Linked DNA regions of Homo sapiens: all the other regions are linked to region 4. Evidence: fine-mapped expression QTL. A gene starts in region 4. Each other region holds a variant in brackets. All regions are shown on one strand. Distances are from middle to middle. Region 1 overlaps KSR1 (kinase suppressor of ras 1). Region 2 overlaps KSR1 (kinase suppressor of ras 1). Region 3 overlaps KSR1 (kinase suppressor of ras 1). Region 4 holds the start of KSR1 (kinase suppressor of ras 1).

Region 1 (7,704 bases), 130 kb before region 4:
TCACATGGCTCACAGTGGGAGAGCCTGGCCCAGAGCCAGGCAAGAAAAGGGGTCAGTCAGCTGGAGAGACCAGGCCTGGTGGCTCATGCCTGTAATCCCAGAACTTTGAGAGGCTGACACGAGTGGATCACCTAGGTCAGGAATTCAAGACCAGCCTGGCCAAGGTGATGAAACCTTGTGTCTATTAAAAATACAAAAATTAGCCAGGTGTGGTGGCACATGCCTGTAATCCCAGCTACTCGGGAGGCTGAGGCAGGAGAATCGCTTGAATCCGGGAGGTGGAGGTTGCAGTGAGCCGAGATTGCGCCACTGCACTCCAGCCTGGGCAGCAGAGCAAGACTCCTTCTCAGAAAAAGAAAAAATAACTATCAGTTGGCAAGGGTGTGGCTGGACAGGAGGGCAGAGATAACAGCTGTGCAGAGCAGAGGTAGCCCCTGAAAGGAGAGTCAGGCAGGGACACACCCTGAGCCTCCCCAGGGGGCAGCCACTGCCCCTGAGAACACATGGAGCTGGAGGAAGCAGAGCACTCAGGGGTCACCAGAACAGCGAGGTGGCCTGAGCGTCACGTCAGTGCTGGTTCTGGTAGCTCTGCAGGGACTGGACTCAGAATCCCAGGGTCTGAGGCTCAGTCACTGGCTGGAGTTTGAGGCTAGTTGTGTCATCTGCCTGAAGCTGTGTCCCTGCCACCTTCTAGCATGGGAATGAGACCACAGCTTTCCTAATGCTCTTCTTGGGAGAAGACAGAAACACAGGGACTGGGTTGAGCCCACTGTGAGGCCTCCTCTGACTGACCCATGTTCGTGTGGCCATCATCACTGCATTCTACAGCCCCTTCTGGGTGGGACCCAGGCCCCAGCAGGACAGCCCGAGTGGGAGCAGCAGGGTCGGTGACACCTGGATCTCTCCTCCTTGGGCAGCATACTCAAACCCATCGGAGCTGTCCAGGCTCCATCCCATAAAGGACCCTAACAGCATGCACTGGGAGAGGGGATCAGGCCCGTTCCAAAGATGACTCCAAGGCCCAAGATACACCAGGGCCCAAGGAACCCCCTAGAAAAAGGGTGCCCTTATTGCTTCTCGGCCTTTTGGCTAAGATCAAGCGTAGGAAAGGGGTGCCCATGCCGAGGAGAGAAACCAGGTGCCCCAATCCTCAGGGGTACAAGAAGGTAAGAGGCACCCAAGGAAAACACTCCCTTTCTTTCTGTGCTGCCAAGGGTATACTGACAAGGGCAATCTTTGTAACAAAAAAGACAATGATCTAACGCCCATCAAGAAGGGACAAGATAAACTATACAACGAAATAATATGAACAAGTCAAACAAATGGGGTTTAATTAATTATAGACATACACAAAACTGCTAGCCTGGTTGGCTCCTGAAAGGGGAACCCTGTGACTGAATAAAAATGGTGGGGTAGAGTTTTCACCACGTACCCTGAGAAGCCACAGAGCTGCTGCGCTTTGGACCATGTGACTGTCTCACTTGTTCAAAATATATAGATAGAAAAATTTGTAAGTCAAAAACTAAACAAAAGAGTAAAACATTCCAAGATGTACTGACATGATGTTCTCAGAGATACCAAGGGAAGTTGAAAAAACAAGTCATGGGACAGAGTAGATGGTATGGTATCTGACAGTCACTAGTGGTTTCTGCCAAATATTCCAGTTCTCCCCTCCTGGGCGTGTGGGCAAAGAGCACTGTTTCATTCTCCTGTTCAGGTTGGGCCAGGAATGGTGGGTGGAACTTCCAAGAAGGAGTACGCAGCTGCCAGGGCATGACATCTGGAACTCACTTCTCCCTCTGCCACCGTGGCCAGCAATGTTCAGACAGTCTGGGCCCGGAAGGAGGCTGACCCATGATGGACAAGATGGACAAGGCGGCATGAGCAAGAAACAAATCTTTGTTCCTTTAAGACCTGGTGATTTGGGCATATCTGTTATTTCTGTGTAACCTGGCCTACCCTGACCCATACGTGGCATCACGTCATGTGCATGTACGTGTACATACAAAACCAAATCTAGAAGGATTCAGCCCACACCACTAAAGTAGTCTGAGGAATGGACTGAAAGATGGGGGCACCTTTTACTTTTGACTTTACACACGTCTATAGGGGTTGATTTTATTGGTCCTTCCATATATCTTTATGATTAGAAAACCACAGAGGGCACTTTTGGTAGCTGCCCAGAAGGAGCACTCACCTCATCGAGGAGACGTCATCAATGCGGTTCCCCAGCTGAGACTCATGGGACTTGCTCCGGGTGAGTGTGGGGAAGCTGGGCAGCAGCTGGAAGACCTTGCGGCTGGGTGGGGGGGGCGTCCGTGGTGGCTTCAGCTTGGTGTGCCGTCGCAGCTGGGGTGTGGTGGGCGGGGTGATGAAGCTGTGCAGGGCACGGGGGGTCAGCCGGCCGCTGGCGTGCAGGGGAATACAGGTGTCTGAGAGGCCCTCACTGAAGCTGGGGGTGGGGGAGTCTGAGGCGGGCAGAGCTGACACGGAGATGGAGCGTGGGCCCTGGGCGCTGTTGCCTGCTCTGCCCAGCTGGGAGCTCCCTGGGGGCCAGGGCAGGCTGGCTGCTGAGAGGGTGTCCGTGGAAGGCCCTGAGCCACTTTCCCGCCGCGCATCCAATGAACTCCAACTGGAGTCCTCCTTGTGCTCCCCTCCTGTGGACCAAGACGTGGAGTCACAGATGGTCAGGGCTGGAAGGAATTCACAGGGGAGATGGCTAGGGGCCAGAGATGTTCAACACCTGGTGTGAGGCTGCACTGTTTCTTAAGGGAAGGCTTCAACTACCAACCTTTACCTGGTTTATAAAGGCCGCTCACTCATGCGCACACATTATCTAGCCAACCATGAGGCCCTCGGCGCAGATACTACCACAGGTTGAGCATCCCTAATCTGAAAATCCAAAATCCAAAACGCTCCAAAACTTGGGAATTTCTGAGCACCGACATGACACTCACAGGAAATGCTCATGGGAGCACTCTGGATTTGGGGATGGGGAATGCTGAACAGGTAGGCATACTGCAAATGCTCCAAAATCTAAAAAAACCCAGACTCTAAAACACTTCTTGTTCTAAGCATTTCAAATAGGGGATACTCAACCTGGATCTCTGTTTTACAGAGGAGGAAGCACAGCCCAGAGAGGAACTGGCTCGTGCAGGGCTCTTATGGGCAGGTCTTGGGGGAGCAATCCAGGAAACCCACCCCAAAAGTGGGGTGACCTCAGAAACCGAAGGGGTGACCAATCTTTAAGAGTTAGGAAAGGGAAGCTGGGTGTGTGAAGGAAGGAAAAACTCCACTTTAAGAAAATTCAAACATTGGGACGAGGGGCTATTCTGAGCATCCAACAGCAAAGTGCTCTGGGGCTTGTGAAAAAAGATCCAGGAAGAAAGGGATCAACAGCCACTTCCTTCTACACCAGCCTTCGAGTGACTGTGGGCTGCCCCTACCATGATCCTGTGCCTGAGGCCCCCGAGGCTTGTGTGGCTCTGTAGTGTTTGAGCTACAGCCATTCAAGCACATGCTGGATGCTGGGTGGAAAGGCCTAAAAAGACCCATCCTTGTGCTTGTAGAGTCGAATGGGCATGACAGGCACATAACACACTATGTATGCTCTGTGCCAGGACAGGGGGCTCTGCAGAAGAGCAGACCTTAAATCAGCTGTGGG[G/C]GTGGAGAGAGGGAGTGTGCCAGGGAAGGTTTCCCAGAGGAGGTGGCACCTGGGAGCCACCTATGAAGCTAGCTCCACATGAGCCAGCTATGGAAGAAGGTGGAGAAGGAGCACCAGGCAGAGGGAACAGCATAATGGGAAGGTAAGGGCATACGGCACCTTCTGGTCACTACGAAGAGTTCTGTGTGCTGTCAGAGGTAAGGACAAGCTGGGGAGAGGCAAGGGATGAAGCTGGGGGGGTCAGCCTAGTGGGGCCAGATCAGGAAGGGCCTTGAATGTCTTGCTAAGAACTTTAAATCTCATATTGAATTGTAATCCCAATGTTGGAGGTGGGGGCTGGTGGGAGGTGACTGGATCATGGGCGTGGTTTCTCATGACTGTTTTGGCACCATCCTCTTGGTGCTGTTCTCGAGAGAGTGAGTTTAAAAGTGTGTGGCACCTCCCTGCCCCCTCTCGCTCTTGCTTTTGCTCCTGCTCCTACACTGTGGGACGCCTCACTCCCCCTTGCCTTCCGCTATGCCTGGAGCCTTCCCGATGCCTCTCCAGAACCAGAAGCTGCTATGCTTCCTGGAGAGCCTGCAGAACCATAAGCCAAGTAAACCTCTTTTTTATATAAATTATCCAGTCCTGCAGATCACCAGGTCAGGAGTTCGAGACCAACCTGGCCAACATGGCAAAACCCTGTGTCTACTAAAAATACAAAAATTAACCAGGTGTGGTGGTGCATACTGGTAGTCCCAGCTACTTGGGAGGCTGAGGCACAAGAATCGCTTGAACCCGGGAGGCAGAGGTTGCAGTGAGCCAAGATCGCGCCACTGCACTCCAGGCCGTCTCATAAATAAATAAATAACCAATCCAGTTTCAGGTATTTCTTTACAGCCTGTGAGAAGGGACTGACGCACCTGTATTGCACAAGCCCTGCCTCCCTCCTCCCTCCCGCAATATCTGTTCTTCTCCCCAGTGTACAGTGGAGGTCACTGTGACTCAGGGAGGCCACAGACACTGCCCAAGGCCAGAGAGCTAAGAAAGTGGTGGGATGGGAATTGAAAACATCGATCTCAGCACCGTGCTCCCCACCTTGCCCCCGACAATGCTACTGATTCTGAATAACCTAGAGCGGAACAGCTGTGGGAGGTAACAAGCTCCATCAGAGGTGGTCAAGCCACTTCTCAAGAATAGGGGGGATGAATTAGCCTTCCCAATTCATAAGTTTCTTTGCACATCCCATCCCCTCTTCAAACACCCTTCCTCCCACCTGACTGCAGTGACTTTCTATTCAGGAACCGACTAGACAGGAGTTGCTCAGTCCCTGTGCTCCCATACCGCTTGCTCCTTACGAGCTACAGCCATGACTGACACTGTAGCTCATAGACTGGCCTACTGGAGGCACCAAACAGGTTTCTTATTGAGCAGATGAAAGGATGAATTTCATGAATCTATGAGTAAGCCTGCTACCAAAGGGAGCAAGCTTGCCACCAAAGGAAACAAGCCCCAAAGTTGCAAGTTGCCTATTTAATCACCACTGCTCTAGGCCCACTTGAGGATGGCCAGTGGGTCTTGATGTGTGCACCGACACCAGCTGATTGGCAGTGGCTGCTTGAGAATGACACTACAGTCACACAGAAACATCTGTGGGTTAGTGATATCTGCCTCGGGTGAAGGATTGGGAGGATCAGCAGGAATGTTCATCTCCTATTCACCAGCACAGACAACCATCCTTCACTCACTTTTTTTTTTTTTTTTTTTTTTTTTTTTTTTTTGGTGAGACAGCATCTGGCTCTGTTACCAAGGCTGGAGTGCAGTGGTATGATCTTGGCTCACTGCAACCCCTATCTCCCAGGTTCAAGCCATGCTCCCACCTCAGCTTCCTGAGTAGCTGGGATTACAGGCACACACAACCACTCTTGGCTAATTTTTGTATTTTTTGTAGAAACAGGGTTTTGCCATGTTGCCCAGGGGGGGCTTGAACTCCTGAACTCAAGCAATCAGCCTGCCTCAGCCTCCCAAATGCTGGGATTACAGGCCTGGGCCACCATGCCCAGCTGTTCACTCACCTTTCTTTAGACCAGAGATTGCAAAGGAAATGACTTCAACACTTTCTATCACCTCATAGGCCTCACACTGAAAAGAACATCTAATACATGCCAGGCTCTGATCTAAGGACTTTACGTTAACTCATTTCCTTTTCACAACAACCCTGAGAGAGGTGTCGTTATCACTGCCATTTTACAGATGAGGAAACTGAGGCAGAGTGAGGTGAAGTAACTCACCAAGGTCCCACAGGTTCTAAGTGGCCGAGCAGAGTGCTGGGCCCAGGCAGGGCCCAGGTGGTTTCATTCCATAGCCCACCTGTACTCTGACTAGACTGCTCTCACCAAGCCCCATGGGGATGCAATGAAGATGCTGTGATGCACAATCTAATGGGATCACTGGTACCCAGCGGATCCCAGCAGGTGCCCGTGAAGTGCAGCCAGCACTGGGCAGACGAAAGGCCGGTGTCCTGGACTGTGATGGGGCTAGGACTCTGCTGGGGATGCAGAGGCACCACAAGCTGAGACTAAATGAGAGAGAAGAAACCCAGAAAATGCTTCTTCTTCAGGGGCCTCCTCTAAGGCCTGCTGGAAAAAGCACCCTCTGAACAAGAAACCTGAGTTCAAAGCCCAGCTCTGCTCCATGCCAGGTGTGGGGCCCCAGATGACTCATCCAACGCCTCCAGTGGTCAGAGAGGCCTCAGCTACAAAGCGAGCTCAACACTACCTCTTACAACGATGTGGCCACAATATGTGTGTCACACGCCTGGCACACAGTAGGTGCATAAATTAGTGATCTCCCTCTCTTGGCATCTAGGACAGGTAGACAGCAGCCTGCATGACACAAATAGGTCACTACCACTTAAAAGCTGACTCTTCCACAATTCTTTAAAATCCAGGCATAAGGAGGAAGCAAAGAAGGGCTGACAAATTACCCCAAAGATCTCAGCTTGGGTGGCAAGCATGGGGACAAACCAATCGCCATCAGGGCCCAAGGTTCAAATTCTGGCTCAGCCACCAACTGCTGTGTGCCCTTACCCAAGCCCTTTCCCTCTCTGAGCTCAGTCTCCTGTAATATGTGAGAACAAGAACACCAGCCACACTTCTGTTGTGTTTATTTTCAGCATCTGCCGGGAGACCTGGCAGGTCAAGATTTTCTGAATTGAGTGCAACTTTCTACACTGTGCCGTGTTCAGAGGACTTGATACAATGAGGGCAGAGAGGAAATTAAGCCCGATCCTCTCTGGGAAGAAAAAACCAGGCAGAATATAAACCTTGGTGCCTTCCTTAAGCCTCAGGCAGACGGAGATAAGACAGGGGCCTCAGATAATTAAAAACCAGGCCTGATTCCATTCATGAGGCTTATTTTAATGCCTTATCTATGTGGTAGTGGGACCATTAAGTCAGGCATTTGAAGCTGTTTCCGACGCAAGATTTAGAAAGCCTGTGAATAATTCCCAAGGACCTCGTGGCAAGGCCAGGATTACACACTTTGCCTGGGACAGCCACGTACACACTCCCAGCTAAAGAGCCATAGAGTTTCCCTAATCACCCTTGGCTCAGGCCCACATCAGCATGTGCCTTCTGAGCACAGAACCCAGCCAGCAATGGGGACAGGAGAAGACGGGGAGAGGGCTGGGGGCTGGAATGTGGGAAGCTGGCAGAGGGTACACAGAGCCCTCAACAGAGAGGAAACCATGCCAGGCCAGCCCAGCCCAGCAGACAGGCCTGGGATTTCTAACCATGGCTGAAACCCCTCAGATTCGGCCTGGCCAGACCCACCAGGATCCAGAGCCCTGAGGACCCTGGGAGAGCTTCTCAGGAGGCTGTGAACATCCAACCCTGGCCTTTCCAGGCTGCCCCAGAAACCCTGGGCCACGCTTGCCCCGCTCCATCACCCACCATAGTGAAGGCCACAGCCCCAAGGGCACCAGGCCAGGCAAGGGAGAGGGTGGCAGGCCCCACGTACCCAGGCCTGTCACCTTCCGCAGGCAGGTGAGGGCATACTGC
Region 2 (7,704 bases), 76 kb before region 4:
ATGGATACTTGGTCGCAGCACCTCACACTCAGTCACAGCACTACAGAGTTTACGGAGCGCTCTGGCAAGACAGCACCTCATCTGATCCTCACTGCAAACCAAGGCTCAGGGGTAAAGGCACATGGCCAAGGCTACACACCATCCTATGTTGTGGCGCCAGCTTCACAACCACTGCCCACCCCAACTCCCACCCAGGAAAGCATGATTTTAAATTCATAGATTAAAACCAAGCACCCCTGAAACACTGAGTCCCACCCAGGGTCACTCCCAGCTGTGACCCCAGGGACTTCTCAGATGCCTCTCAGGGAAGAAAGCCCTGACAAGGACATCCACACGCTTTTCCTAAGCGATCTGAGAAGGTCACTGATTAGCCACAGCCATCTCCACTAAATAATCTTCAAAGCTCTTTTCCTGAGGGACCATTTTGTCTGGTCAGAGGAAGGAGATATGGGATGTAGGGGACATAAAAATCAGACCTGAAACCCAGGAATAATATTGCAGCAGGGTTTAGGTGACATCAGCTCTGGGAGGGAGAAAGAAGGCAAGACCACCTTCTCTAACAAGCAATGGCTAAAGACAACGCAGTTATCCCCCTAGGCCCTGTGCACCTCAGGCAACACAGCTGTAACTGGACTCACATTACTAGCACTATCATTAGCGGGGGATGAGAAAGGGCTCAGGCAACAGGATGCCGCTGCTGTATAATCCCAGGAATGCCAGCCAGGGGCAGTATAGTGATGGATAGTCAGGTGCTGGGGCCTAGAGGCCAACAGACCCGGGTTCAAATCCCAGCTCGGCCACTGACTAGCTGCTTTAACTCAGATTACTTAACCACCCTCTGCCTCAGTTTCCTTATCTGCAAAATGGGGGAAGAGGGGGATGTCTATTGCTGAAGACATCAGGCCTGCTATAATAGATTAACACTCATTGTCAGCCATCTCTATCATGAAAATTCCAGTCTCTTGTACTCTTTGAAAGCAGTTAGTCTGACTTGTTTATTGCTTTAAGATTCTTAAACACATTCCTGGATGACTCCATCTACATGGCATGTCCCAAGCTACCCTGGTGTATTCCTTGAAAATGGGCAAACGTAGACAAGGCCAGGCGTGGCTGGAACACACTCACACTGAAAGGATGGCTTTCCTGGCCCTTACTTTATTCTCAGGTCAAGAGCTGGGCACACCCGAGCCAAACTGTGCAACACGAACCTCTGAGCACAGTCTGTGCAGAAGAGGGAGGCAAACCAGGATGGGTAACAAGATGCACACAGCCTGAAGAAGCAAGCCGAGGAGAGGCCTGGCCCCCAGGCTGCAAGGGGAGCTACTCTCCAGACCTGGATAGTGGTGACATGGCTGAAAAAGACACACACACACGTGCGCACACGCACCTGTCACCTTGGACAAGCTCTAGCTGAACAGGGTGGGGATGCATCTCAAAATAAAGAGAGGCGGTATGCTGCCAAGCTCTCAAGAAATCAACTGACCACCCTTATTGAAGAAATTAGACAATGACAGCTAACTCCAACAAGGGTGACTATTATGCGCTAGACACTGCTTTAAGTGCTTTATGCGTACAGACAGCCCTTAGGATCTGTGGGTTCTGCATCCATAGATTCAACGGCAGATCAGAAATCTTTTTAAAAAAATGAATGGTTGCGGCTGGGTGCGGGGGCTCACACCTGTAATCCCAACACTTTGGGAGGCCGAGGCGGGCAGACCACAAGGTCAAGAGATCGAGACCATTCTGGCCAACATGGTGAAACCCTGTCTCTACTAAAAATACAACAATTAGCTGGGCATGGTGGTGTGCATCTGTAGTCCCAGCTACTCGGGAGGCTGAGGCAGGAGAATTGCATGAACCCGGGAGGCAGAGGTTGCAGTGAGCCAAGATTATGCCACTGCACTCCAGCCTGGTGACAGAGTGATACTCCATCTTAAAAAAAAAAAAAAGAATGGTTGCATCTGCATCTGTACTAAGGGGGCTTGAGAATCTGTGGATTTTGGTATCCTCAGGGGTTCCTGGGACCACTCCCCCATGGATACCAAGGGACAACTGAATTAACTCACTTAATCCTTGCAACAAACCTGTGAGAGACGCCCTATCACAACTATCCCCATTGTACAGAGGCGTAAACTGAGGATGAGGAACAGTCCCATGTCATGCGGCTAGTAAGTGGCAGAGCAAGAAACTGAACCCAGGAAGTTCAGCTGCTCAGCCCATGCTCTTAACCATGGGCTACATTACTTCCTTAAATGACTGAGACTTTTGGGGTGCCTACTGTCCATCAGGCCAATGCTGGGCATCTTGGTACAAATGTTCTCATTTATAAAAAAGGACTCAGAGGGTCAGGAAGCCAACCCAACGTCACCCAGCTGGTATGTGTCAGAGCCAACTTAAACTCATAAGAGGCTGATGCCCCACGCTGCCCCTCCAGGCTTGAGGCGCTGGGTCTGACCTTCCACAGTTTGAAGGCTGACCTTTCCCACTGTGCTCCACCAGCAGTGATGCAGATGGAGACATCACTGACCCAGAGCACACGAATACTGGTGAGGAGCCCCAGGGATGCTCTGCCACCTGATCAGAAGGAGGCCAGAACCTTCCAGAAAGCCTGTTGGAAAAGCAGCGCCTGGGAGAGAGTCCACCAGCTCCAACCTCTTTCCTAGCACAGTCCTCTCCTCCACAGCTGCCTGTAAGCCACATCCTACCCCGTCCCACCCGCTGACAAAGAACCAGAGCGAGGGCCTCCTGCTAGTTCTCCAGTTGCAAGGGCTCTCTGTGTTTAGCTTTCTGATGTAACAGCTCGAAGCGGAGATGCACGCACTCACTGTTGCATAAGACCCGATTTCGCTCACACAAACCTCAGGGCAAGTCAGTCTCAAGTGCTGCGGGCTGGAGCACAGGGTGGCCTCACAGAGCAGCCCGTACCTGAAAGTGCTCTGCCGCGCAGGACAACACATTCCCAAGGAGGCCAGTTCTCCCACGGCCTGTTCCCAGGTGACCCAGCTACCATAACCCTCCAGGTGGAGGATAGCTCACCCGCACTGAGAAAAACCGGGCAAACCCCACAGGGCTCTGCATCTCCTGCCCTCTGACCTTTGCAATTGGCCCCATCTAAGGACCACGTCAACCAGTGAGGATTATTAGCAGGACCAGACCCATCTTCAGATGTCTGAAATGCCTTTAAATTACAAAATCCTTGGATGTTCTAAGACAAGAAGGGCCTAAGGTCATCTCACAGAAATAGATGAAAAACTGATGAGGAAACTGAGGCCCAGAGAGGGACAACGACTTAGTCAAA[C/G]TCACACAAAGTAGAAGGCAGTGCCAGGACGGTCTCCTGGTTCTGTCCAGCACTCTTTCCCCCATACTGGATGGCAGAAGTCCTGGGTTCAACCTGCTGTGAGCGAGTGGTCTAGCTGGTAACGCTGGTTCCCTATTTTTATTTAACAAACAGGGACTGTTTTGAGAAGTGTATAAAATGCTAACTCATTTCATCTGGGGAGGTGGGTGTTATTACTATCCCCAAGTGGAGATGAAAGAGAGATAAAGTAACTGTCCAGGGTGGGAGGTGAACCTAGGCAATGTTACTCCACCATCCAAACCTGAGCCTTGAGTGCCACAGTGGCCTTTGTCACTGCAGCTCCTCAGGGCGCTGCTGGCTATATGCTGAAGTGCTCTCTGGAGCTCAACAGCATGCCCCAAGCAGCTGCTCAGAGGAGCAGGGCTGAAGCCACCTCCAGCACAGCACACATCTCAGCAGCCCCACAGGAGGGGTTCTCCCCCAAGCACTCGCCCACAGAACACAGGGGCCAGATCTTCCATGACGGATCCGAGTGTGGGACCAGGCAGAAAATGGACTCAGGTATTCACTACACCCCCTCCAGAGACCTGCAACATGTGACCAGGGCCACCCCCTCAGCTTACTGTCAGGGGAAAAGGTTTGCCAGGCAGCCCCTTCAAAGGCGTGGCCTCCCCGTCACCTGCACCTTCTGTAACCCTGGGCCTGTGAGGCAGAAGGGGGCCGCCCTGCAGTGCCAAGGCCATGACCCAGCAGGCAGGACTCTGCACCTTTGTGCACAGCCTCCTCGAGGTTCAACATCTTGAGCTTTCTTCCTGAAAAAGGAAGCTGTTTCTCAACATATTGCTACACATGGAGACTGAGAAACACAAACCGAGAGGCGAATAGGGCACTGGCCCCAAGGGAGGAGAATGAAGCGGGGAAGGGCTGGTATGGGCCAGTCTGCCTGAGGTAACCAGCCAAAGGGACAAGGAAACGCCCAGCACAAACTTGTCCATCCCGACATTGTTTACAAGAGGGACACAGTGCAAACAACCCAAAGCCCCAACAATGGAAGCACAGCTAAGGAGGTGATGGTAAAACCACTTACTAAACTATGACAGAGCCACTGAGCAGGTTTACAAAAACATAGGAAGTTTTTTGTGTTATTTTACTAAGCGACAGGCAGGACAAAAAAATCTACATGATGGATGGCAAGAACTACGTAAGCAAAACCTCGCACACAAAGTCTTTGCCTGGAAAACACAACTGAAAGAAAACACAGCAGAAATGTCATCTGTGAATGGGCTGATCTGAGTGGGAAGGCTATAGGTAATTATTTTCTTCCTTCTACTTTTCTGTGTTTTCCAAATGTTCTCTAATTACTGCGTACTGATTTTATAAGGCTATGAATGGGAATAATACATTTTAAAATGTCACAAGAGGAAAAGGGAGGGTGCTGGTGCTTCTCTTCTAGCAAAGGGAGAAAGGTCCAGGAGCCCACGGTAGACGTACTATTTGGAGCCGATCCCTGCTCAGGCCGCCATGCCCAGCCTCACCACTAAGGTCGGCTTTGCTGGTTACTCCATCTGCCCTGCTGGGTCTTTTTTTTTTCTTTTGAGACAGGGTCTCACTCTGTTGCTTAGGCTGGAGTGCGGTGGTGTAATCACGGCTCAGTGTAGCCTCGACCTCCCAGGCTCAAACGATCCTCCCACCGCAGCCTCCTGAGTACCCGGGACCACTGCCACACACAACTACACCCAACTAATTTTTGTATTTTTTGTACAGACAGGGTTTCACCATGTTGCCCAGGCTGGTCTCAAACTCCTGGGCTCCAGCGATCCACCCACATCAGCCACCCAAAGTGCTGGGACTGCGCCCAGCCCCTGCTGGGTCTTTAGATGGAGCAAAACCTCACTGATTCCAAAGGCAAAGATGCGGAAAGGAAGAGAGCAATTTCATAAGGTGGCATTAAACTCATTTTGCTGACGGGTGTGGGATGGGTTGGTTGGTTTGTTAAGAACAGTGTGTGTCCATCTATCCATCCATTCAAGAGTATCGAGTACCCACTAGTTACCCAGTATGGTGCCAAGGCCCTGCAAACAACACAGAAATGAATGACCCATCTCCTACCCTAAAGACCTCAGATTCAAGTGGGGGCCAAAGATATCAAGTTGCAATGCAAAAGTGTCTTTGACAAGGGTTTTCAGATACACACAGGCTGTGAGAATTCAGATATGAAAATTAAAGCTTCCAGCTTCAGAGAAAAGACGGGTGTCGGGAAAGAGTTCATGGAAAAGATGAGCTTTGAATTGGGTCTTGAAGAATGACTGGGGTTGCACAAACAAGTCAGTTAAACAGGCCAAGGAAATATACATGTTTATCTCAAAGGAAAGTTACCTCTGCCGGCAACCATAACAAACCTCCCACCTTAATAATAAGCAAGGAAATACAAAATGGAAACATATGGGCAGATGTTTGGCAACATTGGCAGAGGGACTCCCCAGTGTGGCTGTGGCAGGAGCATGGCAGGAGCGTGGAGCGGCATCGCCCCCCTGGAGGGCAGCAGAGAAACAGGATGATGCAACAGAAGCCTCACCAGGTGGCCCTCACCCCTTGAGCCAGACTCCACTTCTAGGAATTTATCCTAAAGAAACAATTAAGTGTAAGCATAAGCCTATTCACGGAAGTGTAACTTAAAATAGCCAAACATGGGGAAGTAGGTAACTACATTCTGGTGTGTCAATCACAGAACACTATGAGGCAACTTTTTTTTTTTAAGTCCCTTTTAACAGTGTACTTAATCATATGAGGCAATGCCCATAATCTTCTAGAAAGTTAACAACTCAAGGTAAGAAAACTACATTTGCAGTATGATCTTCACATATCTTTTTTATTTTAATTTAAGGCATTAATTTTCTTTTTTCAACTTTGAGGTCAATTTCTATTTTTATAGCAAAATTAACATCTCAAAATGTAAACACTGGAAAGTTTTATTATTTACTTTTTTGTATTTTTAAAGAACGGGTGTCATTTTTATAATCATAAAATGTTATCCAAACTGAAAGAATAATAAATGGAGTTTTTTTATCCAATAGGTTTTTGGGGAACAGGTGGTGTAAGTTTTGTTTTGGGATTTTTGTGGTTTTTTTTTCCAGTAGAGACAGGGTCTCTCTTGTCACCCAGGGTGAAGTGCAGTGGCATGACCGTAGCTCACTGCAACCTCACACTCCCAGGCTCAAGCAATCCTCCCACCTCAGCCTCCTGAGTAGCTGGGGTTACAGGTGAACACCACTATACCCAGCTAACTTTTTTTATTTTAATTTTTGTAGAGGCAGAGTCTCACCATCTTGCCCAGGCTGGTCTCAAGCTCCTGGGCTCAAGAGATCCTCCTTTCTCAGCCTCCCAAAGCACTGGGATTACAGACGTGAGCCACTATGCCTGGCCCAGAAATGGAGTTTCAATAGGAAGAGAAGAGGACATCCTCAGCTTAAAAAAACAGCAGGAGCCAGAAGTGAAGAAGTACAGGTCTCTCCTGGGAAGGAGAAAGAACTGAACATCATGATTAGACAGAGCTGGGCTCACATACTGGATCCACTCTTTTCTAGCGGTGTGACCTTTAACAAATTACTGATCCATTCCTGAGCTTCAGTTTCTTCCAAAGACCAAATGTGTTAAAGACTAAACGTGTTAACTTGGCCAGGCACAGTGGTTCACACCCGTAATCCCAGCACTTTGGGAGGTTGAGGTGGGCAGATCACCTGAGGTCAGGAGTTTGAGACCAGCCTGGCCAACATGGTGACACCCTCTCTCTACTAAAAATACAAAAATTAGCCAGGCATGGTGGCACGCACCTGTAATCCCAGCTACTCAGGAGGCTAAGGAACAAGAATTGCTTGAACCCCAGTAGGCAGAGGTCGCAGTGAGCCGTGATGGCACCACTGCACTCCAGCCTCGGCAACAGAGTGAGACTTCATCTCAAAAATAATAAAAAACAAAATAAATGCATTAACTTACACAGAATACCTACTCGATACACTAATTAGGTCATAGCCTTTTCTACTGACCAATAAAACAAATTCCATCCTGGATGACCCACAAGAGGTAGGGATGTTCATTTATGAGACACATAATCAATGTAATAACAGCATTTGGGGAGAGCAAAGAATTACTACATTAAAGACATCGTACAAAGCCTCCCAATTTCAGAAATATTAAACTATGAAATATATCCTAAAATCAAGAAACTATGAAAATTTGTGTCTTCTAAAGATACTGCTGACCAGGATAAAACATTTGGTGAAAGCCCAAGATATTATTGTTTTTCTCATGATTCTTATACAGTCTGATTTGTGCCCCAAACAAGAAGTCAGGCCGGGCATGGCTCACGCCTGTAATCCCAGCACTTTGCGAGGCCAAGGTGGGTGGAT
Region 3 (7,704 bases), 67 kb before region 4:
GAGCAGCTCTACTTCCTGCAGAGCACTCCTTCCACCCCTCCCCCCGGAGGAGGAGCCCAAATACCACGCCACGGCCCAAGAATCATTTGCTGTTTCAAATAGAGAACTGTGCGATGATGAGAAAGAGTTCATACGTTTTCCAACACGTGAGAGGACCTCTCAACCTGAACCCTCGTGTTCAGCTGTCAGAATAACAGCCAATAAAAACTACATGAGCAAAATCTCTCAGGAAGGTGCTTTAAAAAAGATGCACGAGGACTGAACATGATCAACAAATGTCCATCTTACAATTGCAACTGATACAAATGAATGAGGTGCATTGTGGCCAAAATCCAGCAGACAGAGCGAGAGTGTGAGATGGCAGAGGAGGAACACAGGATAAAAATGAAGTTCTCAATAAAGAGAAGATGTATTGGGAAAAAAAACTACAAACTTTTACCAAGGAATGGCCTGCTTCCTCATTTAACCGGCCCTTTCCCAATTCACCCTAAGACTTTGGGGGTGGCTCTCTTGTAATTAATTGTGTTGGCAAAGAATGTCTGGAACATGGACTTGCGGTCAGTAACCTGTAACAGAGCGACAACTAGGAAAATTTGAGTGGTAGTAGTCACTAACTTAAGAATTCCTTCAGGGAAACAGCTGCACCCTTTGTACCCCTTAAGTGGCAAAGAAGCTGTTACAGTCTTCTGAAAATTATCACCATGAGTGCTATAATTCTGAATGTAATGTCTCTTAATTAGAATTCATACAAGAACCATGAGAGAGAGAGAGAGAGAGAGAGAAAGAAAGAAAGAAAGAAAGAAAGAGAAAGAAAGAGAGAGAGAGAGAGAGAAAGAAAAGAAAAGAAAAGAAAAGAAAAGAAAAGAAAAGAAAAGAAAAGAAAAGTTAGTTGCAGTTACCGAACAGATCTGGATGCCATAGGGGCAAGGCCCCACCTTCCACGCAAACTGTTCCAAATTGGAAAGGGCTCTTTTCATTCTCCCTATAGCACACCTGTATTTCTCCAGTTTGATGTTTAGGGAGAAGATTTACACAAATGTCTGAAGGGCAAATCTTGCTAGACTACCCGGGGTGTCCTTGGCCCCAACTACCTCATCCTCTTTCAGATGAAGAAGGCACCAGGAACACCAAGGTCAGCTGCCTGAAGATTAAGCAGCTGCAACCTGGAAAAGCTTAAGGTTTAGAGAGAACCTCTGGAAACCTTTGGAACCTTTGGGAAAAAATGCAAACTCAGTGACCAAACTGTAAGGGGTGGAGAGCTGTATCCTCTCCTAAATGCCAGGCTTTGGGAAACTCAAGATAAGCCTTCAGAGGAGACCCAGAAGGCTCAGCTCATTCCAGTACTACATATAATCAGCATTTAATCCTTACCATGGTTCTTAGCCATGTGTCAGGCCCTGTTCCAAGCACATTACATGCGGTAACTCATTTATTCTCTCCAACGAAACTGATGCACAGAGGCAACTTGCCCAAAGCCAGAGCCAGAACCAACCCATGCAGTGCCTTTGTGCAAGGTGAAAGAGTGCATCCCATCCTCTGCACAGACACAGCACAGACCCACAAAAGGCATATTCCTGGCAATAGGGGCAGTCTGGATTTAAGGAACCCTTCACCCCCTTGTGCAGTGCACAACCTGCTTGACTGTACACAGCCCTGTCCAAGTTCACACAGTAAGTAAGAGGCGGAGCTGGAATCTGAACCCAGGCCACCTGGCTCCCAGGTCTGCTACCAAGTAACAAGCAGGCACAGTTTCATATTAAATAAGTGGCCTGCAAATTAATGCAACTCAAAATATACAGAAGGACTGATGCGGGTGACTGAGAGCACAATTCTGTGTGTCTAGAATGATCACATTTTCAGTAATGATGAGACAATGCTCTGACATTTACAACTTCATGGGCATAAGATTTTTTCTTTCTTACCATTTCTAATGGGAATATTTCTAAAATGTGCCCCACCGTTTTCCACCTTACAGCATAATGTAATATAACCCTGCTTGAACTCCACACCACCACTGCCACTCCAGGAACCCAGAGCCCCCTCCCTGCCTTTTCCTGCCGCTCTGCCTGCAGCCTTCTAATCCTGGGTAATCTCTTTTTCTCTGCTCCTATAATTGCTACTGGAGAAAACTCAATGTGCAGGTGGGTTGGGGACATCCAAAGTTTTAGGTTTTGACCTACTTCCTCTGGCTTAGCAGCTCTTTGATTTGATTCTATCTAATTCCTTGCTCTTCCCCAATTCCTGGGGCAGCATCTTACCAGTTTCATGCTCTACAAGCCCCTTTGCAGAGATACTGGAGGCCACCGGCCTGTACTTGCTGGATTTGCCTATCCTCACCTCCCATCAATACCTCCCTCCTTGGGAAGGGGATGGGGAGGGGAGATCTAGCTGTCCTTCAGCCTCCAAACCTGCATTCAAATCTTTCTGGCCTTAATAAATACTTTCTCTTCAGCTCCCCCTTCTCTCTCTCATTCCCTTCAAGTTCAAAGATCTTGACACATTTCCTCAGCTGTTCAATATTACTCCTCCATTGATCTTAGTCTCTCTACTCCACCAAAACTGCTCTTGCAGAAGCCCCCAGAGTCCATGTTCTCACTCCCACCCTCATCCTGCTTGACCTCACTGGGGCATCTGGCCAAGTGGTCTCTCCTCCCAGACATGCCCACCCCTAGCTTCCCAGTTCTCCTACCTTTCTGACAACTCAGCAGCCTCCTTCCCAGGACTCCCACAATCACCTACACGCTTATGCCTCCCAATTTAGAAAACTCTGAACCCCACTCCACTCATAAGCTCCAGCCCCAATCTAACCCCCAAATGGATGGCCAGCCTGCATGGGCCAGAGGTACCCAAACTCACTATCTCATCTTTCATCATCTAGTGGTGGCCTCCCACTTTCCACTCTCCTTTCTTCCTAACAGAATGCTGAGGTTTTAGCTGGCCCGTTTCCATCCTTCCTTGCAGGCAGGTGTAGCTGTGTGACTAATACCTGGCCAATGACACATAAATGGAAGTGCCACATGGTAATTTCAAAAGGAATATATACATGACACATCCTTCTCCAGTTCATTCATCCTGCTCCCTGGAAAGCTGATGTGAAAGCTGGACCTCCAGCAGCCATCTAGGAACATAAGGATAAGGAATGGCAGAAGGGTGAGCTGGAAGGTTCCTGAGTTCCTAATGACTTTGTGGACCCACCACACCGACATTGGGTTACCTACATCCAGACTTCTTTTATGTGTGAGAAAAATTAACTTGCTTGAGTTACTGTTATTTGAACTCTATTTTATCTAATATCCCCTCCAAACTGGTCATGTCTTGCAAGACAAGGAACTTGGTCAATAACATCAACATTCACTATCTGGAAGCCTCCAGCTGTTTATTTGCCAACTTTCC[C/T]CATTAGACTGCGAGCAACTTGATGGCAGCAACATGTCTCTCATTTTCTAAATAATTCAAACACACAAAAATGGTATCTTTCCTTTTTTTTTTTTTTTAACCTTACAGAAATGGTATCATTACTACAGATATTCTGCAACCTTTCTACCAACGTTTTTCTTAAATGTAGTCGGGCTGATTCATGTAAGTCAGATGGAACTGGTGAAAAGTACTACACTGTGTAAACCGTCATTTATTGATATATTTCCTGGCTAATAGGCTTTTAGTTTCCTTCTAGTTTTTCATCATCACCAAAAATGTTACAATGTACATCTATTTCTCCTTGAGCACTTGCATGCTAGTTTTTCCAGTACAGACAATAGAAGTAAAATTTTTGGCTATAGGGTATGTGTATCCCTAACTTCACCACATCTAGTCAAGTTCTCTTGAGAGTAGTTGTACCAATTTACACTCCCCAGGGCCCTGTGTGAGAGAGGAGGCCCCTCCCCATGCTGTATTTCTAAACTGCCAATTTCTACCTAACATGATGGTAGCAGGATCCTTTTTTTCTTTCTTAGTACCCTGAACTAGCTACAGCAGAAACACAGGAATCCCCTGAGCTACTCTCCCCAAAATGTTGTCTGGCTGCTGCCTGAGGACAGACCACCCTGCAAAAAGCAACCTAGCTGGGCAGCCAGCATTCAGAGTGGTGCACCCATTGCTTTCTATCTATGGTGTCTCCTCTTGCAAGACAGAGACTTTCCCTCATTGCAAACTTGCTGGGGGGTTGGTGGATTAGTCCTTTGCATTCACCACCCCTCAAATTATTTCATATCCAGCCTACTCACTCAAGCCCTCTCCAATACCAACCAGAAAAGGACAATGTGAAGGTGTTTGTCCCACCACAAAGCCCTCCCACTTTTCCCTGGAGCTCTCAGGCAGGCTGCTGAAAAGAACATCTCATCTCTGCTGGAAAGAAACACCTCATCTCTGGTGGTGGCTCATGAGCATCTCCTGATAAAGGAAAATCCCAGGCAGAGAGAGGGGCCAAGTTGTTTATTTCCAAACACAAGCCAGATTCCAGCTGTGACATGTATACTGGATCTGCTCACTGCAAAGGCGAGCTGGGCGGGAGGGCCACGGGGAGCGGGGGCCAAAGCTGTGTGGAGGATTGCGTGGTTGTTTAGTTTCAAGTAAGCCAGTATTCCTAGGATCAAGTTCATAGCCCCTTCTCAGTCCTGTTTTTCCTGACTCTGCCTGTCTATGGATTTTTCATGTCAACTTGCCCCAAGTGCAAAGGGTAGTTGCCTTGACCCACTTAACCCAGGGGCTCAGAGAGACACTCCACCGGGCTCAAGGCTGGGGTCTGGTATCCACCTTTCCACTCCACAACATTTATTGAAAGCTTGCTCTGGCCAGGTACCAGTGTATAAGAATGGCTGTAACAAAAACCCAGCCATTATCCAGAACTTGACCTCTGAGAACTCATGGCCTAGAAAATAAATACTTGTGATGTCATGTGAAAAGATGCAATGGTAAATATGTGCAAGAGAAAGGAAAGAACAGAGAAAGTAAACCTAACTAAGCCTGGTCTCCCTAGCAGCATGGGTGATAAGCAGACATTTTTATCATCAACATCATAATTCCAACTGCCTGCCTTTCCCATAGCCATGAGAGTGTGGATTAACAGGGCAACAGGTGGTGCTTTGGGAGCTCAGACGTCAGGAGACCTGGTTCTAACCCACCTGCCTCCATCAGAGTAGCCTTTGCAGGCCAGGCGTGGTGGCTCACACCTGCAATCCCCACGCTTTGAGAGCCTAAGGCAGGTGGATCACTTGAGCCTAGGGAGTTTGAGACCAGCCTGGGCAACACAGTGAGACCCTATCTCTACAAAAAAATTCAAAAACTAGCCAGGCGTGGTGGCTCATGTCTGTGATCCTAGCTACTCAAGAGGCTGAGGCAAGAGGCTTGCCTGAGCCCGGGAAGTCAGGGCTCCAGTGAGCTACTGCACTCCAACGTGGGCAATGGAGCTAGACCCTGTGATCCTAGCTACTCAAGAGGCTGAGGCAAGAGGCTTGCCTGAGCCCAGGAAGTCGGGGCTCCAGTGAGCTACTGCACTCCAACCTGGGCAATGGAGCTAGACCCTGTTTCAAAAAAAAAAAAAAAAAAAGGAATGGCCTTTGTCAACTCACTGTCCTCATGGGTAAACTGAAGGGTGGAACAAGCAACTCCTGAGCAGTCCTTTCAGCTTGGGTATCCTAACCAGGGGCTTTCCACCCTCCCTGTGTATCAGAATCACTTGGAGCGGGTATACATATAGAGATGCCTGGGCCAGTTCCCACCCCAGAGGTACTAAGTCAGCTGGCCCAGGGCTGTGCTCCTGATATGGATGTGTTTTAAAAGCACCCATGATTCAAACATGAGGACAGGGTTCAGAACCACGGTGCTGAACAAACTTCCTGCTGGTGACAGCCACAAGTGCTTGAGGACCGGGCCCCATTCCACAGACTGCCCAAGGCAGGAAGCGAACCCAAGGCCAAACAGCCCATAGTGCCTGCTGTCTGCTCACAGGGATACAATGATTTCAGGAAGATTCCAGTTAGGCCAACTGGCAAACAGGGAATCACACGTCTCCCGCATCCTCCAGCTACCTGCTTTCAGCCCCTTTTGGCCACTGGGACAAATGGGTAAGGGGGAAGGCAGCACCCCTCCAATCCACTGGCAGGGGGCCGCCCCACCCTCGGGAAAAGGAGGCCAGTGAGAGTTGGAGGCAGCGGGGCCTGGGAAACCTGGGCGGGCACAGCCTGGCCTCCCTGCCTGTGAGCCAGCCCCTGAGAGGCCTCGTCCGGACAAAGGGGCAGAAGAACAAAGCTCCACTGTGCCCGTTCTGCACGGAAAAGCCAGCAGAGACAAGGAGACTTCAGGGCTGGTGGCACGATTAGCATTTTATTTATTTATTTAATTTTCGTTTTATCTAACAAATGCCTTGGGGACACAACACTTATTATGCGCACCAAGCAGAGTTTCTGAGCCCTTTCTAAAGATTAAGCTTTAGAAGATTAAGCTTTCCAGAGTTAAAGTCCAGGGAGGGGAAAAAATTAATTCTCCCCCTCCACAGGCACATAAATTTACCTTTGCATTTGCTACTGTCTGGCCTATAACATACAGAAACCACTTGGATCTAGGAATGTGTCCCAAGGTGTGACTTAAATCCCTTCGGTGCCCTTTATAGAAGGCCATCTTCTGCAGGAATGGAAATTTTCTCATGGCAAGGTGGAAAGAATTTGGAAGTTAAACTCCATTTGCTACATGAACTTGGACAAGTTTCAGAAACTCTCCGAAACTCATTTTGGTGTCTGTCAAATGGGAACAGTGTAGCCTATTTCAGAGGTGTTATGGAGTGAAATGAAATAATTCATTCGGTATAAAGGGTGCAACAAAGGGCCTGACATCAGCTACAGGTTTATTCCCTTCTCCCATCTGCAAAGCACCACCTCTGCCATTTACAGAGACTCTGCTGCACTGAGTACCCATGGTCTAACAGCAGCCCTGCCAGGTTCAGTATTACTATCCCCACTCCCGGCTGGGGAAACAGTTTTACTATCCCCACTCCCAGCTGGGCTGGATGAAGAGCTCCTCCCAAAGCTCACAGCTCTCAGGTGGTGGGGCCCACATTCAAAGCCTGTGCCATGGACCAGGGACTTTCCTTTGGTCTTAGACTCTAGGTCCCTCACCACAACCCGTCCCAATTTAGAGCCTAAATAATCATACAGCTCAGTAGAGCTCCTTGCTTTTTGTTTGGTTTTAACAGTGTCAGAAATCCCCCACAAATCTGGCAGCTCTAAACACTCACATTGCAGGCCCCACAAGCAAGCACCCAAGGCTGGGCTGTGCAGAGAACGGGGACAGCTGGGGTCCCGGGACTGACAGAGTGGCACTGACTGACCATCACCACTCAGGCTGCCCATTCTTGGCATCAAACGCACCATGGCCAGGTCAGAGAAGAAACTATGCCGACATGATAGAATCACTAAATGCCGGGGGTTGAAGGGGACTCCTTTCCTCAGCTGTAACACGGGTGTGGGGAGGAGTATTGCTGAACTAAACAATCCTGGAGGGATTTCCTGTCCTCCCACCCCTGGGAGCCCTAAGGGAGCAGTTGATTCAACCTCCATGTGGCCCCACACTTGAGCCACAGGGCAGGCCCTGACCTGCAACTGGAGAGTGGGTGCCCAAGACAATTTTAACAAAACAAAACCTCATTTCTGAGGCCTCAGAATTCCTTTCTGCAGGGAACCACACCCAGGGCTTCCAGGCGCTGACCACCACAAG
Region 4 (7,704 bases):
TGCAGTTGCACAGGCCAAGCCCTCCAGGTCAGATCCTTCTTCAAAAGCCAGGAATCCAGTGTTGCAAGCACAGTCTCTGGGGCCACGGCCTGGTGTGTGGGGAGCCCACAGAACAGGAAAGAACGCTGGAGTGGACACTGCCACTTGCCTGCCTGGCCCCAACACATGCTGCTGGCGGTGGACGGTCCCACCCAGCTTGCTGAGATTGTTTCCTGGCTTGTGTCACCCACCTGTATGAAATGAGAGGCAGCTGCAGAAGTACCTTTCCCTAAAATCCAGATTTACTGAACCCATAAAGTAGGGGGTTAAGTTTCCCTAGCAAGGGTCCAGTAGGGGTTAAGTTTCCCTAGTGGTGGCCTGTGCCATAAATGCTACTGGACCCTCACTAGGGGCAGCTGCCAGGCAGACTCTTTTCGTAGTATCAGCACGGACTGACAGACAAAATGCTGCAGGTGTGAGCAGTCTCGTTCCTATTTTACAGACAGGAGAGCTTGAGATTCAGAAGTCATGGGACTTGCCTAAGGTCACACAGACAGAACCCAGGCCCAGTATGAAAGCCATGGGGCTTCCTATTCACCACGCTGCTCCTATGGCAAAGATTCTTCTAATAAACTTAACCCCTATGTTATGGGTTCAGTAAATCTGGATTTTAGAACCATTCTTAAAGAGGGTTATTCTTAAACCAGGGTAGTATAAAAACAATCACAAACATTTGATTTCACCCAACCAAGTCTCCTTCTCTAACCTAGAGAATTTCGAGCTTCCAGAGCCCTCAGAGATCCACTCCAGCCTCCTTGTTTTGCAGGTGAGGAGGCTGAGGCCTCCGGGATGAAGTGACTCATCTAAACTAGCTGGTGGCAGCCCCATGGAACTCACTCCAGGGGTCTAAATTCCCATCCCCCAAAACAACCCAGGCCCTGCCTTTTCAGGAAGTGGAGTGAACCCGAATCCACATCACGGTGGGAAGAACAGGGAGCTGCAGATCCCCTGTGGGCCTTTGGATGGGTTCTCTGCTGCCAGGGATGATCGTCTAAACAAACACTCAGGAGGGAAGCCACTGAATAAACCAGCTCCAACACTTAAATAGCTGGATGCTCTGGGGTGTCATGAACGCCACACTGCCATCAAAATGAGGGACTCCGGAAGTTAGGGTAGGACAAAAGGCCATTCCAGAGAATGCACAGCAAGTGGTTCTCCTATATACACACTCTGGAAGCCAGGAGCACTTCAGAGCAACGTGGGGACAATCCCACAGAGGCCAACACAGAGAGCATTCTCCAAGCCCAGCAACACCGAAGTCCAACCACGCACACTCTGCCAGACAGCGACCCCTCCTCCCGGAACTGAGCCTCACAGGCCCCCTATTGTTGTCAGCTTAAAAACTGAACTTTGCTGAGCAAACACACTCAGCTGTGTTCAAAAAATCAGTTTCTCTCAATACTTGGAAAACTGCAGCATGCATGCAGAAAGGCCAGTTGTAGGGGGTTTTGTTTGTTTTTTAAGCAAAGCCTTGGTCAGTACAGCTTTAGCCAACTGTAATAAAAAATAATAATACCCAGCACTGACTGTATTCTTCCAATGTCCTGTGGTTTTATAGCTTTTAAGAAAATAAAACTGAGGGAGAGTCACCCCCGAGCATTTGGAATCAAACAAGGATTCGGCTTTGTGGCATGCCTGGAGGAAGGATTGGTCTTGTAATAATTACCGCGATCACAGAGGGCCTTATGACAGCTGGCAGAGGCAATTAGCAATAAGGGGCGGGGGGAGGGTTTGGGGGAGGAGAAATTGAGGATCTAATAAAACAAAACATCCCCAGACCTGCAGGAGGCCAGATGTGGCAGGGCAAGATGGTGAGAGGTTCCTTCTTCAAGACGGGGCAGCTATTAACTGGTCTGACGTTTCACCGCCCCGTCCCTGGCCAAAATCACATTCAGAATCCACTAGTTGCCCTCATTTGTGTATGGACAGGGTGCCCCAACAACCCTCGGGCTGGTTTTTCCAAATCCTTCAGATACTTCCCCAGCTATAATTTGAGAGAGGAAGGCCCGCATATCTTATTTCTTCTTTACACTCCAGACTGTCTCCATCAGAACCCTTTAAACAGTTTCATCTTCCCACCAAAGGCTTGCTTCCCAGCATAATCCTTCCTAAGCCTAAATCCAATCTTTGGGGGGAAGCAGGGGGAGTCAGCGGGTAATTATTAATACATTTTAAGCAGCGAGCCTCCGTGGCAACGTGAAAGGAAAGCACCAAACGCCTGAATAACAAAAATGCAGTTTCAGCAACACTTTTTGAAAAGGCGGCAGACAAGACCTGAGAGGAGAGGAAAGGAAGGGACAGGACGGCGTCTGGGGCGTGAGGGGAACAGGGGACGGCAGGCCTGCGATCACGCTTCAGGGGAACCTCCTCCGTCACCCTGGCCCACGGGTGCTCGGCTCAGTCACACGGGGAAAAGTCCAGCTTGTGACTCGGTGGGACAACGAGTCCTGCGGCCCCGCAAACTGGAAATGGGGTGGGGGCGGAGAAGGGGGGAAAGGGGATGTCCGCGCGCAGCCCACCCCGCACGGGCCCCTCGAGCCTCCATCCCAGTTCCCACGACGCACCCGCCCCACAAATCCTGCCCAAGATGAGGGCTGGTCCCGGGTCCTCCGGCTGCCGCATCAGCGAGTGCAGGAGGGAGGGGAAGCCTCCAAGGGGGGCGACGCGGGCTCAAGGATGCAACTCGGCCAGGAGTACTGGGGCCCGGAGGGAGGTGTCCGGGCCCGCTCCTCGAGCCCAGCCTGGTCCCCGACCCACTTACCTCCAGGGTCCGTATCTCCTGCTGGGTGAGGTCGTTGGACACAGCGCACTTGGTGCGCAGCCCGCGCAGGCTGCCGATGGAGATGTCGATGAGCTTCTGGAGCTGCCCGCACTGCTGCAGCGCCCGGCTGGCCGCGGCCCCTGCGCCTCCCTCCGCGGCCGCCGCATCCCCCCCGCCACCGCCCTCCTTCTTCTCTCCCATCGCCGCCGCGCGCAGCGCTGCTCTATCCATGCCTCGGCATCGGGGCCGCGGCGGCCGAGGCTGGGAGCCCGGGGCGCGGGCGCCTCGGCAAGGAACCCCCGAGCCAGGAGAGCTGGACCAGGAGCGCCCCTCGGCGCTGCCCGAGCCGGGACGCCGGTAGAGCCGGCCGCTGAGTCTGCCGCTTCCACCCTCCCAGCCGCGGCAGCAAAGCGAAAGCCGCGGCGACCCGACGGCTGCGGCTCCCGGAGCCTTTAAGCGGCGGCGGGGGCTGGGTCAGGGCGGCCGGGCATGCTGGGACTTGTAGTCCACGCCGCGCACCTGCCGCCGGCCTCCGCCCTCGGGGCCCCGGACCGCGCCCGCGCCGCCCTCCCTGCCCTCCTCTCCCCTCCCCTCCCGGCGGCCGCGGCGAGGCAGGCGGTGAGGGCCGGCCCCAACCGGGAGCCCCGGGTGGAGCTGCTCCGCGCCAGCTCCTCCCCCAGGCGCCGAGAGTCGGGGGAGCAGCGTCTCCCCGTCCGCCTCCGTCCCCCACCCGGCCTAGGAGCTTCCCGCGACCCCCGGATGGGGCGGCGCCCCCTGGACGCCCGGCGGGTGTGCGTCCCGCAGTTCCTCAGCTGCAGCCCAGCCCTGGAAGATGGGGACCAGGGAGGTTCCAGGATTTGTATGTGGGTTTAGGGGCTGCCATCTAGTGGGAAGGGGCTTACAGCACTTCTGTAGCTGGCTCACAAAGCGCTCTACTCTGGACTGCCTGCGCCAAAACGATTGCTCAGGCTTGGAGAAAGACGAAGAGCTTTCTTCTGAACCACATTTACCTGCCAAAATAAGTGTCCCATTCCCCCGCCATTCCCAGCCCACCAAGCCAGCCCAGACACGGGGGACAGCACACTGAATTGTCGGTGGCTTCGGAGCAAGTGGCCAGGATTCAAATTCTGACTCCACCACGGTCTAGGGTGAGACTTTGGGCACGTTCGATTTCCAGTGAATGCCCGACTCTCCTCATCAAATAACTCTTTAATAGGGTTCCTATGAAGAATCAGTTAATACATGTACAGCACCTAGATTGATTACTGGCACATGTGGTCGCTGGATAAATGTTAGCAATTCTTACTATCTAACCTCAGATCTGAATGTGGCCCTGGACCCAGGTAGTGGCCATGGAGCAGTACAGTACTGCCAAGGACTGGTAGTCCTTTGTCCTCTGTGCATTTCTGTGCCTCCTAACCCAGCAATCAAGCCTTGCCCATCTGTTCACCCTCCTCTCCCATTAGTTCACCCCATGCGTTCTATTATCTGGCAAAACTGAAAAACCAAGTCTCTGATCAAAGCTCCCACACCTTCATGCTTTCGACATCTGTCAACCAGAAAAAATGTCTCCCCTCTCAATTTTCTCTTGTAAGCTGCTTGATTGCAGAAGCCACTAGCTATTGTACCCTCTTTATAGTGCCAGATACAGTGCATGGCACACAAGAAAGGCTCCAGCGTGCCTCAGGAGCTCTTTCAGCAGGTCCTATGGGATGTTTCTTTTACCTCTCAGGCCAGCCGAGGGTGTGTGTGTGTGTGTAGATAGACAGTTGTTTTTTTGGTTTTGTTTTTGTGTTTGAGGATGAGAATTGGACAGGAGGTGGGATCCAAACCTTGTAGACACTAAAACAATCAATAATGGATGGCAGTTTGTATTACACCTTCCTTTAATGTTTATATTACACCAGCCTTCGAAATAAATTAAGGGCTGGGCACCGTGGCTCATGCCTGTAATGCCAGCACTTTTGAGAGGCCAAGGGGGAAGGATCACTTAAAGCCAGGAGTTCGAGACCAGCCTGGGCAATGTGACAAGACCCTGTCTCTAAAAAAAATAATAAATTTTTAAAAATCAGGTCTAGGAAGCAAAACTATAACTTTAAAACTTGTTTTTGCAAATTAACCCCTCCTCGAGATTTTCCAAATGCAAGGAGGTTCCTCCCTAACCCCTGGCCTTTCCCATTGAGAGTCATTGATCCAGTCCTCACTCAACTTATAAAAAGACCGCCTGCACGATATTATGAATTTCTCAACCTGTTACCTTAACCCCATCCGACTCCTTGCAAAGTAGTAACTATTATGAAAGGGAAACTAGTTGTGGTTCTCAAACTTGAACATGCATCAGAATCACTTGGAGGGCTTGTTAATTCCCAGAACCATGGAGCTCACCTCTATAGTTTCTAATTTTGTAGATCAGAGGACAGGGCAGGAGAATCTGCATTTCTATCAGGTTCTCAGGTGGTACTGATGTGGTTAGTCTGAGCCCAGTCGCAAGTCTATACTTTGAGAAGCCTAGGCACAGAGGAAGGTCAGTGGGCAGAGAACTATCTCAAGGGACTATCCACAACCCAACCTGGCTGGTTCAGAGCCTCTGTCCAGCAGCCAGAGCTGCCAGGCTTGAACGACTCACTCATTCTAACACAATTCACAAAAGATTTTTTTTTTTTTGAAACAGGGTCTTGCTCTGTCACTCAGGCTGGAGTACAGTAGCATGATCATGGCTCAGTGCAGCCTCGACCTCCCAGACTCAGGCGATCCTCCCACCCCAGCTTCCCAAGTAGCTGGGACTATAGGAGTGTGCCACCATGCCCGGCTAACGTTAACTTTTTTTTTTTTTTCCTTTTTTTTAGAAATGGAGTCTCTCTACGTTGCCCAGGCTGCTGGTCTCAAACTCTCGGGCTCAAGCAATCCTTCCCCTTCAGCCTCCTGAAGTGCTGGGATTATAGGCGTGAACTACCATGCCTGGCTCACAAGAAATGTTCTGGTAAGTGCCTATTTATGCACTTACATCAAACTTGTTATTGCCACAGGGACCTGGTCATCACATTCTCCCTCTAGGGCCACTTTATGTGGGAAGCCACATCCTGAGAAGAGCCACTGCCAGCTTGTGGCATTCATGCCCACCCATGTCACCACAGGGGTGATGTCAGAGCCTGAGACTGGACAAATGCCAGCTCCCTGGTTACTCTCCCGCCAGGTTCCATGCAGCGAGTCTGTCCTCTGTGGATACAGTCTTCCCTCTGATTATCCAGAGCATTCAGCAGGCCACAGTTTTCCTTCCTCACAGATGGCCTCCAGCCTTCTTGCCTGGATTTGAGTCATCTGTCAGCCACAAGTTTACAGAACTGCCCCTCAGAGGTGGAGAAACTTTTTTGTTTTTGTTTTTTGTTTTTAAGAGACAGGGATTTGCTCTGTTGCCCAGGTTGGAGTGCAGTGGTGCGAGAAAGCTCACTGCAGCCTCAAAAGTCCTGGGCTCAAGCCATCCTCCTGCCTCAGCCTCCTGAGTAGCTGGGACTACAGGTGCCTGCCACCGCATCTGACTAATTTTTAAATTTTTTGTAGGGACAGGGTCTTGCTGTGTCATGTAGACTGGTCTCAAACTCCTGTTCTTGGCCTCACTCTCCCAAAAGTGCTAGGATTACAGGCATGAGCCATGGCACCTGGCCGAAATAAGGATTTTTAAATAATCCCTTCATTCATCCTTTTAACATTCAGTAAGCATTCATGAAGTGCCACTTACATGGCAGGCCCTGTTCTGGGCTCTGGAAAAGGGTAGTGAACAAAATGAAGATTCTTACCCTTAGGGAATTTATGCTGTGGTGAGAGGAAACAGACAAGCAGATAAATGCACAGTGTGTCAGTGGTAACAGGTGGTATGGCACTGCAGGGAAGGGGACAGGGAATATGGCCTTTACAACTTCGAATAGAGCTGTTTTAGAGAGTAGGGTAGTCAGCTCTGTCTCTGAATCGCTGTATGACCTTTGACGAGTCTTATATGACCTCGGGCAAATCTCCTAATCTGGTAGCACAGCTTCTTATTTGCAAGATGGTGATAATGTTTTATGAGGATGAACAGATTATATAACACAAAGTAATGGTCATAAAATAAGGGTTCGGCATATTTATTTATTTGATAAATATTTACTGTATGTCTACTGAAACTGTTCCAAATGCTTAACTCATTGAACTATGCATTACTTTCTTCCTCACCTTCCAGAATGAATCTCTTCTAGTTAGATGAATTGATCTATTATGTGTTGATTCAGGGTTTCAGCATCATCTCCAGGTTCTTGAGGCTTTTTCTGAGGCACCTCAGTAGAGAAAGTTTGCTTACTCTCTCCTTCCTCTCCTCTGTCTCGGGTCCCTTCATTGCTTTTCCGAGCTTGTCTGCATCCAAACACCAACAGCAGCGGTGGGAGCATTTTCATGCACAGGCCCAAGAAACATGAAGAGGACACTTAGCATGCGCCAGGCTCTGGGGTAGGCTCAAAGCGAAGGAAGCCGAGTCCTTATCCCTGTGGAACATACATGAAGGGAAGGACAGGAAATGAATGTCAACAAATATATTACCAAAATAAACTGAGAATCATAAGTGCTACGCAGAAGAAGAAGAAAGCAAATAGCCGAGAGTCTCTGGTGGCTAAGGTACTTCACTAGGTGAAGTGGACAGAGAATTATTATCTGACCATTGAACTAAGATGTAAATAAGGAAAAGCAAGCCATGTGGAATGTTCCAGGAAAGGAGCACTCCAGGCAGTGGGAACATCATGTGCAAAGGCCCTGAGGTAGGAGCAGCTTGGCATACTCCAGGAACAAAGTGAAGGCCAGAGAAGCCATAGCAAGATGAGGGAGAGGAGCAAGGGCTGGAGATGATGTGGGAGAGCTATGCAGGGGCCAGATAAAGTGGG

Evidence for each region. PIP is the estimated chance that this variant, and not a neighbour inherited with it, causes the effect.
Region 1: its variant is fine-mapped to the expression of KSR1 in whole blood (TOPMed, PIP above 0.99). The same link has a PIP of 0.9 or more in atrial appendage.
Region 2: its variant is fine-mapped to the expression of KSR1 in whole blood (TOPMed, PIP 0.99).
Region 3: its variant is fine-mapped to the expression of KSR1 in whole blood (TOPMed, PIP above 0.99).

Annotation. Positions count from the first base shown.
Region 1 is chr17:27,577,599-27,585,302 of GRCh38, reverse strand. It overlaps KSR1 (kinase suppressor of ras 1), which reads right to left. Exons shown (of 21, transcript NM_001394583.1): 3 at 7,664-7,704; 4 at 2,198-2,657. Among named protein-coding and RNA genes, the nearest start is that of LGALS9, 50 kb to the left of the region's middle. RefSeq lists an enhancer at 5,939-6,008. The variant G/C (reference allele first, on the strand shown) is at 3,665.
Region 2 is chr17:27,527,634-27,535,337 of GRCh38, reverse strand. The region is part of intron 1 of KSR1 (kinase suppressor of ras 1); the gene reads right to left. Among named protein-coding and RNA genes, the nearest start is that of KSR1, 75 kb to the right of the region's middle. RefSeq lists a silencer at 2,262-2,447. The variant C/G (reference allele first, on the strand shown) is at 3,299.
Region 3 is chr17:27,519,173-27,526,876 of GRCh38, reverse strand. All of the region lies in intron 1 of KSR1 (kinase suppressor of ras 1), which reads right to left. It also overlaps the pseudogene MSANTD3P1. Among named protein-coding and RNA genes, the nearest start is that of KSR1, 67 kb to the right of the region's middle. RefSeq lists enhancers at 6,729-7,365, 7,345-7,494. The variant C/T (reference allele first, on the strand shown) is at 3,394.
Region 4 is chr17:27,451,971-27,459,674 of GRCh38, reverse strand. It overlaps KSR1 (kinase suppressor of ras 1), which reads right to left and starts at 3,227. Exons shown (of 21, transcript NM_001394583.1): 1 at 2,801-3,227. The coding sequence starts at 3,031. RefSeq lists silencers at 2,368-2,417, 2,938-3,697 and an enhancer at 3,061-3,562.